Homo sapiens: one gene and its partner. The protein of the gene in region 1 purifies or fractionates together with the protein of each later gene. This does not show direct contact. Each region holds a gene or a part of one and is shown in the gene's direction. Other genes may lie near its edges.

What was found.
Region 2: the proteins of USP33 (region 1) and ROBO1 purify together in Homo sapiens (affinity purification with western blotting; 5 studies listed by BioGRID and IntAct, with this or other methods). This does not show direct contact.

What each region holds. Positions count from the first base shown.
Region 1 is NC_000001.11:77,749,566-77,756,852, reverse strand, and holds part of USP33 (ubiquitin carboxyl-terminal hydrolase 33), read left to right. Parts: intron 1-7,287. UniProt on the Homo sapiens protein: Deubiquitinating enzyme involved in various processes such as centrosome duplication, cellular migration and beta-2 adrenergic receptor/ADRB2 recycling.
Region 2 is NC_000003.12:78,630,721-78,638,007, reverse strand, and holds part of ROBO1 (roundabout homolog 1 isoform a precursor), read left to right. Parts: intron 1-1,899; coding exon 1,900-2,235; intron 2,236-3,965; coding exon 3,966-4,073; intron 4,074-6,702; coding exon 6,703-6,847; intron 6,848-7,287. UniProt on the Homo sapiens protein: Receptor for SLIT1 and SLIT2 that mediates cellular responses to molecular guidance cues in cellular migration, including axonal navigation at the ventral midline of the neural tube and projection of axons to different regions during neuronal development.

The sequences.
Region 1 (7,287 bases):
GTGACCATTATTTTTGTAGCCCTTATGGTTTCTCTGAAGTGCATCTTGAACTTGGACCTGAGATGACATGGGTGCAGGTGAGATGCTATAAAGCACAAGTGAGGAAGCAGGTAGAATCAGAGAAGGAGGAAAAAAGGTTAATAGTGGAAGGCCAACTGGAGGCTGCTTAAGCCTTTGGAGATTTTTGTATAACTGCCTCAGAGTTTTGTATAACTGCCCCAAATGAAGGGGAGCTGGGTGGTTTTCCATCTACAGTCAATCCTCACTGATAAAGATTGCCTTTATCTAAAAGGCTCCCAGAACTTCCCAGGTACACTGGTTAGGTAGGGCTTGGCAAGCTCCTGAGGTGCTGGAGAGCTGAGGAGAGAAGTAGTTGAGATGGGAAGTTGTCAGTGTGTTAACTGTGCATACCAGCTACAAGTAAACATTGAAGTGAGCTGAAAGGAGATGGTCCAGGTATCAACTCTGTGTCTTAACAGGCATTCTCATTGAATAATCCAGATGTGAAATAAAAGCCTCAATTTAGATAGAGACCTAGAAGAAATGTGAGATGAAATGTGGTTAAAAAAAAAAATGCCGAATTTAGAAACTGATAGAAAGTGAGGAGGGGAGCCAGGTGCTGTGGCTTGAGCCTGTAGTCTCAGTCACTTGGGAGGCTGAAACAGGAGATTTGCTTGAGCCCAGAAGTTCAAGTCCAACCTGGGCAATATAGAGAGCCTCCCATTTCAAAAAAAGTAAATGAAAAAAGTAAGGAGGGATCTAAGATGGTACTGAGGTTTAAAAGTTAGTTAACTTGTGAAAAAGAAGGGTTGACAGAAGGACACTGACTTTCAAATTAGTTTTTTAAGGAAAGTGAAAAAATTGCATAGTATTCAGGAGAGTGATGATAAGAGTGTTGATGACCAGTCATTCAAAAGGAAAGCAGGGTGGAGACTTGAACAATGCTGCCATCCCCACAAACTTATAATGTCTGGCCCATGCTGGATTATAAGCATTTGTTAAATTAATTTCTATCCCCCAGGGCTTATCACAGTCCTGAAATACAGTAATGTGGTGAAACTATAGGGCTGAATGTGACCTAAAATAAGACCATTTCCCACAGGTTTTAACTTTTATAAAATCCTAGAAGAGGAATTTCTTATATATTTTACTTTTTTGTGAAAGGGTCTCACTCTTGCCCAGCCTGGCGTGCAGTGGTGCGATCTTGGCTCACTGCAACCTCCACCTCCTGCGTTCAAGCAGTTCTCACCACTCAGCCTCTGGAGTAGCTGAGATTACAGGCGCACGCCACCATACCCAGCTAATTTTTGTATTTTTTGGTAGAAATGGGGGTTTCACCATGTTGGCCAGGCTGGTCTCAAACTCCTGACCTCAAGTGACCCTCCCACCTTGGATTCCCAAAGTGCTGGGATTACAGGCATGAGCTGCCATGTCTGGCTGGAATTTCTTATATTTTTTATGGAAGCATTACTGTGTTTAGATGAATCAGTTTTGATTAGTTTTAAAATCAATATTATAGTCTGGTAAACAATAAAAGAATTGATAATTTTTCTTATGGTGGTTCTCATTTGAATATGGTGATAGCATTTGTTTTCTCATATTCTTTCTTTCTTTTTTCTTTTTGCTCACAAGCTGAACTGAAGATTTAGGTTTTTCCATGTTTCTATGTGGTTTACATGAATATTTTTAATGACTGTTCCGTAATGCCAGTATATTAACTCTTCATCTTGCTCAAAAGTGAGACTTAGAGTGAAAATTATCATCAGCTTATTTGAGACTCTGTTAGAACTCTGTCATATTCATTAATTCATTTCTATTTCCTCTCTCTTCCAATATTTCTCAAAATTATTTCAACGAGATAAGGCTAGAATTGACCATATTTTGCCATTCATTATTGGACAGATTTTTAAAAATCTTTATAGGAAATGCTAATTAATATTTACAAATCTCATTTAGAGGATGTTATTTGGAATGAAGATTGCCAGATTGGAGCTATACTTTGGTATTATTAATAGTGGTAATGTTAAGAATAGATTGTAGAACACATAGGTTGTAGCCAGAGAACTCAGTTAGAAGACTGCGTATTTCTTTTAATAGCCTTAAGGCTCTCATTAATTAGACTCTTAAGGATCAATGAGACAGATTTTCTAGTAAAAGAGAAATAAAAAGATTAGCACTACATTTCTTTTTCTGTGTTGTGGTTTTGAATGAAAATTAAGAATGATTAGGTAAGTATTATAGGACTTTGTGGGATCTTCAAATCCTCACAGAGGTTTGAATGATTTTATTCTCAGAATATTTGTTTAAAGGGAAAGAAACAGTTATTTAAAATGCTTGTCAGCTGATTTCTTTTGTGAAAAGTCTCCCTGAGCACTTACTATGGATTGAGAATAAAATAAACTTTTCTGCTTGTTGTTGCACTCTTCATTGATAACTTCCTTCCATTCATCAGTTTTTTTGGCTTGCTTTTATTGGGTAGCAATTTTCTTCCATGATAAATATGGAAAGATAAGCCATAAGCTTATTCCTTCATTGTATTTTTGCTAAAGTGTAATATTTCATATGGTACTGCTGGACTAGTACTCGTGGAACCATAGTCTAGATTGAAACTGTTGAAAGACAAATCAATTTTTTTATAATCATAGAATCTTAATTCAATTCTGAGTTTTTAGTGCAAAGTGCTTGCTGTCCTTTGAAGCACCTCTGACAGTTACCCAACCTCTGTGTAACAATTATGGGGAACATGCTCCTTCCATGAAAGTTCATCTGTATTTGAACCGAAGTCTTCACCGTTGATTGAATATGCTGTTCTGACTTTCTCAAGTTGCACAGAAAAGAAAGGATCCCTTTGGTCATCATGTTCAATTGGAACATGTGTATCAAGTCCTGGCATCTTTTGCCTTCTGCTGTTTAAACATCCATGCTTTCAGTTCGTAATGGTTGACATTTACTGAGTACTTACTATATCACCCTCTTCTAAGTATTTTATATATACTAATATATAATATGTAATTATATATTAACGTATTATGTGTAATTATATAATTAGTTTAAAATATTATATATTAATCTTCTCCAAAACTCTAGAAAGTAGATATTTGTAATTAGATCAGTGTTTTAGATGAGGGAGCTAAGGCAAAGAGAAGAAACTTACCACTGGTCCCAAATCTAGGAGATAGTGGAGCCTTGCTCCAGAAACTTTACTCTTAGTACAGTGCTATCTTATAAGATACAGTTTTCAAATTATTTCTTTTAAGGTTTTCTATGAGAGGCACTCTTATTCTGTAGCTTTTAGTATTCTTCTTAAATAAAATACTGTATTCCAGATATAATCTACTTATTTTATGCGAACATTAAGATTGGCTATTATTTTTTCCCCTTTTCACCACTCTATTCAATTAAAAAATTATTATTTTTTTTTTGTAAAGATGGGGGGTGGGTATCACTCTGTTGCCTAGGCTGGTCTTGAACTCTTGGCCTCAAGCGATCCTCATGCCCCTGCCTCCCAGAGTGCTGGGATTACAGGTGTGAGCCACCATACCCAGCAAGACTGGTTACTCTTTTTATTCTGAAACCTTGAAACCTAGTGTTCTGTTGATTAATTGAGTAGGAATTGCTACTTCTTCAAGGGTCTAGAATCCAAATACCTGACCCCCTTTTTTGGTCTCAGTTTATATGGTTGATTCTTTGAATCCCAATGTCGAATATCACATCCATCATTATTAAATTTCGTCCTGTTAATTTTAGCTAATTTTTTTTATTTTTTATTTTTTGAGATGGAGTTTTGCTCTTGTCACCCAGACTGGAGTGCAGTGGCATGATCTTGGCTCACTTCGACCTCCTCTTCGCGGGTTCCAGCAATTCCCATGCCTCAGCCTCCCAGCTAGCTAGGACTACAGACGCACACCACCACGCCCTGCTAATTTTTTGTGTTTTTAGTAGAGACAGGGTTTCACCATGTTGGCTAGGCTGGTAATGAACTCCTGACCTCAGGTGATCCACCGGCCTCGGCCTCGCAAAGTGCTGGGATTACAGGTGTGAGCCACCACGCCCAGCCAATTTTAGCTTATTTTAAAAAATAGTTTAATTTTTCTTTAAAAACTTATTTTTATAATTTTAAGTTTATATTTTACTAGCCTGCCTTCTGTAGCTTTATCCAGGTTATTGTTAAAAATATTGAGCAGTTCTGACACCTGCTAGTGAAGACCTCCTGCATTCATATTAATCTTATATGTAACTATTAAATAGCTACCAATCCTTCTGACATAATTTTTTTTCTCTGTAATGTGAATCTGACTTTTTATGAAGAGCTTTACTTTTTGGAATAGACTAGGCAATGGAATTCAGGCAGTTTCTCAATATTAAAAGCTCCTTAGGTTACCAACTATGTCCTGATGTGTAATTATTATATTAAGGCCAGGCGCAGTGGCTCACTCCTGTAATCCCAGCACTTTGGGAGGCCGAGGTGGGTGGATCACTTGAGGCCAGAAGTTTGAGACCAGTCTGGGTAACACGGTGAAACTCCGTCTCTACTAAAAATACAAAAATTTAGCTGGATGTGGTGACACATGCTTGTAATCCCAGCTACTCAAGTGACTGAGGCATGAGAATTGCTTGAACCTGGGAGGGAGAAGTTGCAAGTGAGCCGAGATTGCGCCACTGCACTCCAGCCTGGGCGACAGAGTGAAATTCTGTCTCAAAAAAAAAAAAAATTGTACTAATAACATGGTTCCCTATACTTTTCCTAATATTAAAATTTGAATAGCTGATTGATTATCTTCTATTAGGATAAGGGGTCAGAATTTCAACCTGGAATTTGGAGATTGTACTACGAAAATATTCTCCCCTTAAAAGTAATATCTTCGGGCGCGGCGCGGTGGCTCAAGCCTGTAATCCCAGCACTTTGGGAGGCCGAGGTGGGCGGATCACGAGGTCAAGAGATCGAGACCATCCTGGCTAACACAGTGAAACCCCATCTCTACTGGAAATACAAAAAATTAGCTGGGTGTGATGGCGGGTGCCTGTAGTCCCAGCTACTCAGGAGGCTGAGGCAGGAGAATGGCGTGAACCCGGGAGGTGGAGCTTGCAGTGAGCTGAGATCGCGCCACTGCACTCAAGCCTGGGCGACAGAGCAAGACTCCGTCTCAAAAAAAAAAAGGTAATATCTTCAGAAGCAGTTTTGTTTTGTTTTTGAGACAAGGCCTAGCTCTGTCACTCAGGCGGGAGTGCAGTGGTGCAATCACAGCTCACTGCATGCAACTTCTGCCTCCTGGGCTCAGGTGATCCTCCCACCTCAGCCTCCTGAATAGCTGGGACTGCAGGGGCATGCCACCAGGCCTGGGTAATTTTTGTATTTTTTTGGGGTAGAGACAGGGTATTGCCGTGTTGCCCAGGCTGGTCTTGAACTCCTGGGTTCAAGCAGTCCTCCCGCCTCAGTCTCCTAAAGTGCTGGGATTACAGGTGCGAGCCACCATGCCCAGCCCAGAAGCAGTTTTGCATTTACTTTAATGCAGATGAGCAATTTAGCCACCGGAGCTGTACATCATAGAGCGTGAGTGCAGTCGTTTTCATCTGGAAAAATTTTCAGTTGGTGTTGCTGCCATCATTATTGGTGAGAAAACTTCCAGTAGTCCAGTTAGTGTGGCAGATAGAGGAAAAAGCTGCCAGATACAAGATTACAAAGATAAGGACAAACAGATAAAATCTTGTGCACTCTTTGTGATTTCCAACTTGTAAGTCACAAGCTTCTACAGGAGTCTTAGTTTTGCAAAATCTACTTCTGTGGATTGGACAATAGCATTTCCATATACAACCATTTTCTGTTTTTTTCTAATGTCTAATACTCATCTCCTGTGATTAAATTATCAGACAAGAATGGAAGCATACATGCCTTCTTTCTTTTGGTGTACAATTTGAGAAGAAATTGAAGTAGCTAAGAACTCCCATTGTCTTACCCTACTATATCTGAATGCCCTACCCTCAATAAACATTTGTCAAATAAAGGAATAAAAGAATGATTTTATTACCTTAGTAAATAAACTGAGTAAAACTAGGCAAAGAAAATACTAAGGGTTTTCTATTTTGATAGCATTGTATTATACGGGATACTAAATATCCTTGGGACAAATTGTTAGCCTTTGTTTACATGCACTAATTCTTTTCCTTTTTCTTTCTTTCTTTCTTTCTTTCTTTCTTTCTTTCTTTCTTTCTTTCTTTCTTTCTTTCTTTTTTAAGTCAGGGTCTTGCTGTGTTGCACAGGCTGGAGTGCAGTGGTGCAATCTTGGCTCACTGCAACCTTTGCCTCCTGGGCTCAAGGGATTCTCCTGCCTCAGTGGAACTACAGGTGTGCACCACCACGCTGGGCTGATTTTTCTATTTTCTGTAGAGAGATGGGGTTTCACCATGTTGCCCAGGCTGGTCTTGAACTCGTCAGCTCAAATGATCTTCCCGCCTTGGCCTCCCAAAGTGCTGGGATTACAGACCTGAGCTGTCATGCGTGGCTGCCCAGCCAATTCTTTCTTTCTTTCTTTTTTTGGAGATGGAGCCTTGCTCTGTTGCCCAGGCTGGTGTGCAGTGGCGTGATCACGGCTCACTGCAACCTCTGCCTCCTGGGTTCAAGTGATTCTCCTGCTTCAGCCTCCCGAGTAGCTGGGATTACAGGCACCCACCACTATGCACGGCTAATTTTTGTATTTTTAGTAAAGAAGGGGTTTTGCCATGTTGGCCAGGCTGGTCTCAGACTCCTGAACTCAGGTGATCCACCTACTTCGGCCTCCCAAAATTCTGGAATTACAGTCATCGCACCTGGCCCTGCCCAGCCAATTCTTATTAAATTGTTTAGATAATGCAAAATTAATAGCAGAGCAGAGAGAATGTATTTATGTTTTATTCTTTTTTTCATCTCAGCTATCAGCAGAGAGAATTTATTTTAATCTTATTTTTTGCTTGAGATTTTAGAAAAAAATATTTATCTTGGAAGTTTCTTTTCAATCCTCTGATCCCATTTCTTTCCTCTGAGGCAAAATAGTATTGCCTAAAAAGCAGTGAGAAGAACATCTACATTTCATTGGCAAATGCAGAATTTTTACTTTAGAGGAAAATACATAGCTTAAATACTTTCAGTAAACAAAGCGCTCAGTACTCATCTTTAGGGATTAAGAAAATAAAACCAGGCTGGGTGCAGTGATTCATGCCTGTAATTCCGGCACTTTGGGAGGCTGAGGAGAGTGGATCACCTGAGGTCAGGAGTTTGAGATCAGCCTGGCCAACATGGTGAAATCCCATCTC
Region 2 (7,287 bases), on another chromosome or scaffold:
ACCAAACAACCCCTCCCCCCCCCAAAAAAAAACCCAATATTGCCAATATAGGAAATATTAAAATTATTGTATGGAATCTCTATGATGATAGAAGTAAAATAACCTGTGGAATTACGGAAAGGCGAGAGAGAAGTTGGATTTAAGTAAAGATGCTATGCACTATAAAGAACAAATCATAGAGCAGTCTGCATGTCTGCCCTTAAAGCGAATCCTGAGTGTCCACTGGACGTGGATGTGACGTATCCATGTGACCAAGTCTCTGTCCTCTAGAGGCCCATATTCTGAATGTCTAGACAGATAGATACTCATGTAATCATAAGTACAAGAAAAACTGGGTTGAGACCTATAGGAGAGAAAAAATGGCGATACCCATTTAATAGGTAGAGCTGTGTTGTCCAATATGGTAGCCATTGGCAACAGATGGCTATTTACATTGAATTTAATAAAATATAGTTTAAAACTCAGTCCCTCTTTTGCACTAGCTACATTTCTAGTGCTCAGTGGCCACGTGTGACTGGTGGCTGCTGTATCAGACAAAGTGGAGTAGACCATGTCCAATATCTCCAAAGTTCTGTTGGATAACACAAATATAGACAGATTGGCGAAACAAAATGAGAATGCAAAAACCACATGATCTTTATAGTATTTCTTAACCACTGTTAAACAAAACTAGAAATTAGAAATAAGAATCACAAAGTCCAGATGAATCAAATATTTCTGTTCCCTGACGGTTCATGGTTGAAATGCAGAATAGTTGAATTCAGTAGGATAGAGAAATTACACATTTTTCTTAAGATTATATTCACATTTACATCTTTAGTAACAAACATGTTAATTTATAATTTTTAAACATATCCAGTTAAAAACCAATGCTACAGGTGACTTGTTAATGTTGGTACCACTTTTGGACAACATGCATAAAATAATGACATTTTTACCATTGTAATTTAACTAATTTTTCTATTTAAAATCTATTTTAATTTAAAAATATGATTTCAGTTCTTCCTACCATTTTAATATTTTCAACTGCAGGCCATATATATATATATATATATATATATATATATATATAAAATGAATGTATATATTATGTATGTATATTCAGTTATTTAATGTCCAAATATTTCAATAGAGAGAAAACTGGAGTGGAAATGAGATATTAGATATTTAAGTATTATTTCAGGCTTATTTGATTCAATTACCCAGGTTACTATGATTCCTTTTGTTATTATTATTATTGTCATTTTATATTTCTTTGGTTGTCATTATGAAACCATGAGAAAATAATTATATAGCATGTTTTCCGGATAATGATTATCCAACAGGACTACAACAAGAACTAATAGAATTCTCCTTAGTACCATTTACTATCATTTTACCCCTGTTCCCATATCTTTTAAATGTAGGTATTTTATAAAATACCAAAATCTCAAGTTCTTTGATCTATGAATAGTTTTTTCCTTTGGATTTTTCATTTATGTGCTTTGTCTGTTGCTTCAGCAGCTAACCAGTAGCTTCAAATAATTCAGTAACCAAAGACTAGAAAATAAAAAGTTGACACATAAAGATATACATGTATATATTATTTTAGTGGAATTCCTATTAATGAGGTTATTAAATGAAAATTATTTTAAATTGGATGAATTGTTTACTTCAGCACTATCAGAAATTCAAATTTATTTAGTCTCTACAAATTCTGTGTACCCTCTTTTATTTTTTCAATTATTAATTTTCTTTAGAAAGCACATGTGGATATTTGGCCGTTTTTATTGATCTTATTTAAGCCCACTTGTACTTTACATAACGATTTTCTGATGACTCGCAAAGCTACGTAAAAAGAAATTTAAAAGGAATAACCACGCAGAATGATTTTTTCCTTTTCCTCTCCATTGCACATAGCTGATTGTATAGCAAATTATAACAACCAACTGGATAACAAACAAACAAATCTGATGCTCCCTGAGTCAACTGTTTATGGTGATGTGGACCTTAGTAACAAAATCAATGAGATGAAAACCTTCAATAGCCCAAATCTGAAGGATGGGCGTTTTGTCAATCCATCAGGGCAGCCTACTCCTTACGCCACCACTCAGCTCATCCAGTCAAACCTCAGCAACAACATGAACAATGGCAGCGGGGACTCTGGCGAGAAGCACTGGAAACCACTGGGACAGCAGAAACAAGAAGTGGCACCAGTTCAGTACAACATCGTGGAGCAAAACAAGCTGAACAAAGGTGAAGAGGCTTGCATGTATTCCCATCTGTTTCTGTATGATACTCTCAGCACCTCGACTAGATGTTGAAACTTGTCTGCGACTAGCAAGTAAAATCTTTTCTTCTGTCGCTGAGATTTTCTTATTTCTTTGGTTTCAAAATTTCCAGTGTCAAAGAGTTAATTAGCACAACAATAACCTTGGAAAATTTATTTTATAATAATATATAAGTATTTTCAAATGGTTTTGAGATTAATTTAAATTTAATAGCAGGTGAGGGATTGGGACGGACAATCTTTTATTCATGAGGCAGATGTACAACTGTCACAATACCTCGCATTTTCAATAAATAGACTATCCCATTCTTTCCACTAGAGGATGGAAGATAATTGCTTCTATGTGGTTATATAAACCAATGGCATTTTTATATCAACCTGAAATAAAATAATTAAATTAAACTTGAACTGGAGAAGTGGTTCAATTTGTTGTATGTCTCCCACCTCGTGTGGTTATTAAGACTGCTACAGTGTATAATTTTAGAACCTAAATTTCCTTGGTTGACCTGATTGAAGTCTGTCCGTATAGAACCTAAAATAAATTGAGTTTAGTATTAACTTGAAGCCGCAGAATAGTATTCTGTGGCCTGAAGGAAATGTTTCTGTATTGTAATGTGTATGAGTTGGAAAAGATAGGTGTTTGGTTTCTTTGTAGTCCTTTAGGCTACTGCTATAATATCATGATTTGCAAAGTTATACCTCTAGGAAAACCAGGATTGCTCTAATGTGAATAGATGGGGGCAATGCATCCCCACCTATTCCAGGTAAAGAATACACTGGAGATAATTGGAGACATAGACATTTTCTTTAGGTTTGGGTTGGGAACATTTTCTTTGAAAATGCGATTTATCACAGTTGAAGATGACAAAAATATAACTTAAAAATTTCATTTAAGTTAATATTATGTTTTAACTCGAGAATGAAGTCAGCTAGGCTTTTCTCAAGTTTAAGAAAGTACTTGATTGGTATAATAACCCAATTTAATAAATATGGATCGAGACTCCTGCATAAGTTCATAACAAAAACTGACAAAGATGAACAGGACAGTTTCTGTAATCATGGAGTTTGCAGTGGTGATTCAAACTATTGTCACATTATTCCTTCATAGTATATTGTTTTACTGTGGACTTCGGAAAGCCCTGAGAGCCTCCGCACAAATATTTCAGAACTCTGATTTATTGTTTATACTGCTTGTAAGCAGATTTGGTATGTCAGACCATAATAAAGAACCTGGAATGCAACTAGACGACAGATTATTACTGACTACATTCCAGTGGCAAGCTTATCATTTGGATTTTCACCTTTGCCTAAGTAAGCAGAAGCATTTCTGGGGCAAATTAAGATATTTGTTTTTTTTAATCATAGATATATTTTTTATTAGATATAACCTTGCTGACAGGTTTCAGTTTTATTTTTATGTATTGTGATTTATTTTTTATGATTTGCAGACATTTTTGTGATTCTTATTAAAATCATATTGATATTATATTATTAAAGTTATTTATAGTTTATATATATTTGGAGTATAAGCCTTTTTATATCCTGACAATCTGAATACAACAATAGAAGAGAAAAAAGGCAAATAAATGGTCCAATTTGTTTCTTTAGTTACTCAGAAATATAGAGAAAGCAGAGATGTGAAATCGCTCATGAAGAGAAAATAAATGTTTATTGTTTTTTCATCTGATATGTCTAGATTATCGAGCAAATGACACAGTTCCTCCAACTATCCCATACAACCAATCATACGACCAGAACACAGGAGGATCCTACAACAGCTCAGACCGGGGCAGTAGTACATCTGGTAAGTAAGATGAACCAAAGAACTTCTCCTTTAAAAAGCTGGTACTTTCCAAGATTACAAATTGAGTGCTAATGGACTGACGTATGTAGGTGACATGTCTAAATCACTGTATGTAATTTGAGTCTCAGGCATGTGTCTTGTCTCTGCAATTTGAGGGACTTTCCACTCACTAAATCATTTTATGTTCTATTTGGCAAAAAGACTAAGTGTCCTATTTTCTTCCTTGTTAATGAGCTTTAGCAAAGCCAGAAGAAACATGTCTGGTTAATCTTTAAAGGCAGTTGAAACTTTTTCCCCGTTGGCCAAAATATAACTAAAAATGTTGCACAGAGTTAACCTGCTAAATATGTTGCCATTTGAAACGAGCCTATAAAAGCACATAATGTTTGAGGACACTTGAGCAGAATCAAAAGCCGGAGAGACAATAACATGAGATTCAGGTACAATAGGAGCCTGTCTCAGTTTATCATCCCTCTACGATCCCTCAGTTCTTGCTCTGAAGCCTCGTAAAGCAACCTCCCAACCTCAGTCTGTAAGTGCCTCCCAAAGCCACATTGAGGCCTCTTCCCTGTGGTCTTCATGCTGTTACAGCTGTTTGCCAGCTGTTTTCCTGATAGGGGCTGCAGATGGGAGCTTGCTGGGTACTTAAGTCCTGTTTTTCTAATTAAAGGCAGTTCGTTATTAGAACTAACATGTGGCACATCACACCACAATGAGAACAAAACCGACTGATCTTGACTCTAGCAATGTTTCTCCAGGAGAGGGTAGAAATGCCACTTCCCAGCAACTGGATTAAAGTTGTTCTTAGGGGCTTTTAGCCAAGAGTCTCCACCCTTCTTCTGTAATGAATATGGCATTTGCATTTTACAGTTTTCCCTTAACTAACACGCTGGTCTGGCATTGTCTAGCCTGTGTTTCTGTTGGAATTAAGGGAGCTTAGAAATGGCCCTTTACCTTTTAGATTTACTCTGATTCTATTATATGTTATTTGTTTGTTTTAACAATTAACATCTTATTAAATGACTTCTTTTTTGAAGCTAAGTCAATCCTGAATTAAGAGAAATATTTCAAGGATCTACTTTTAAGAAAATCATATGAAATATTTTAATATTTGATTATCTTATGCCATTTGATCTTTGAATTTTTAGTCACATAGAGAAAACCATATCTTAATGGGAAAATAAACAATGATTCTAGGTTATTAATCTTTAATTGACCTTCAGCATCCCTCAGCTTAGATACCTAGATCTGGGTGTTCTACTGCTATATATCATTTGATATTCTGTGAATATATGGTAAAAAGATGTAAAGATGCGTGATGGTAATTAGGGAAGAGAACAAAGCAAGTAAATAAGGTATAGGAGAGATCTGTGATAGGCCTCTCCGGACTGATGGAGTTGCTACAGTAGATGTATATCAGGAAATCCAGAGGAAGATGTGGGTTAATGTCTAGTCTACAACACATGCACAGTTATCCCAATGCTGGACACCGGAGTGGTGGACGAGAGAAGTGAGAGACATACACATAGGACTGATAATCGTAGTTTATTAATAACAGCCTGTCCCTAGCCCACGCTTAGTGTGGTAACCTACCAGTACAAGAACATCTGGCTTAACAAACACTGCCATTTGACTGAAAATTCCCAAGTGACAAAAAAATCAAGGCTCATTGAATATGATCAGACCTGATTCATATATTACATGACTTGGAGAAGGATTGGATAGGGTTAAAAAACTAAGGCCAACATAATGCACTGATATAAAGGGAACTTATGAGAAAAATAATCATAGACTCATTGTCTATAATTCACATATGAATCAAAAATATAACATATTGGAAAGGGGATATTTTGTCCCAAAATATTTGTTGACCTAAAGTTTTTGTTAAAATAAATGCTCTCAAATATATAGCCTCTTGTGTTTAAAAAATATGCCAGATCTAAAATGAGAACACTGGAGCACTTGAATGATTGGGCTATGTCAAACTACTAAGAATGTTCAAGCAACATCATTTTACCATAAGCCATCATTGTACAGAAACAGTGGCTGAAAACACTTCTGTCCCTTTTAAAAATCATTTTTCTGCTTCTTTTGTCATTAGTTCTATCAGTTATTCCAGCTATTATTTCATCTGTACTTGCCTTTCTGAAGGGAACTAGTAATTTCATTGTGCCTAAAACATTTCAATGGACAAGTACAAATTATATATATTCAGTGATTTAATGCAACAGTGGAACTCTAATAGATCGTATCTGTATCATATTGTATTTTAAGTTCCAGCAATTAAATAATAGAAAGGCACTCGAGAAAATATATCTACAGCTCATTTGTTTGAGATGATAATCCATAATGCAATTAATTGCTGCAGGAAGATCACTATTAATGATATGACTTGAAACATTCATTCATGGTTTTATTGCTTTTTTGCTATTTATTTTGCAGTTATTCATGGCAGTACCTTGCATGTTCTCTTGTACAAAGTTCTGTTTAAAATTAATGAAAAAGCATGTTTATCTCTGTATATATAAATGAATTATAAAATCATATTTACAAAAAATAATTAACTTGTGACTAATGGAAAAAGTTTAAAGGCCAGAGATCAATGGCTTCTATTTTATTTCCTTTCTAGGGAGTCAGGGGCACAAGAAAGGGGCAAGAACACCCAAGGTACCAAAACAGGGTGGCATGAACTGGGCAGACCTGCTTCCTCCTCCCCCAGCACATCCTCCTCCACACAGCAATAGCGAAGAGTACAACATTTCTGTAGATGAAAGGTAAGAGGAGCATCCAAACAGATGTAAACAGTGTAATATGATTGTTTCAGCCCATTTTCAGCAATTATTATACTAGGTGGTCAAGAGAAGACTGATTCCTAAGGTCCACAAACAGTTGCCTTTAAATAAAATAGTGCTGGTCAGCAGGAAGTAAAAATTCTCCTTGCTGCTTCCAAAAAAGCAATCTGTGCTTTGAAAGATTCTTTTGGAACTTAGAATGGAATATAAAAATGATACATATTAGCTCATGTATCTATCCTGTGTGTGTATACGTAATTTAACATATGGATATATAATTTTGTGATTTTTGAGTATTAGAACTTCTGTGACAGGTCTTGAAATTTTTGAAAGATAATCGTGTGAATTTATACCACAACGATGGGATCCTGAAGGCTATTTGTTCTTAGATATTATCACCTTATGCTGAGAACTCTGTAGAA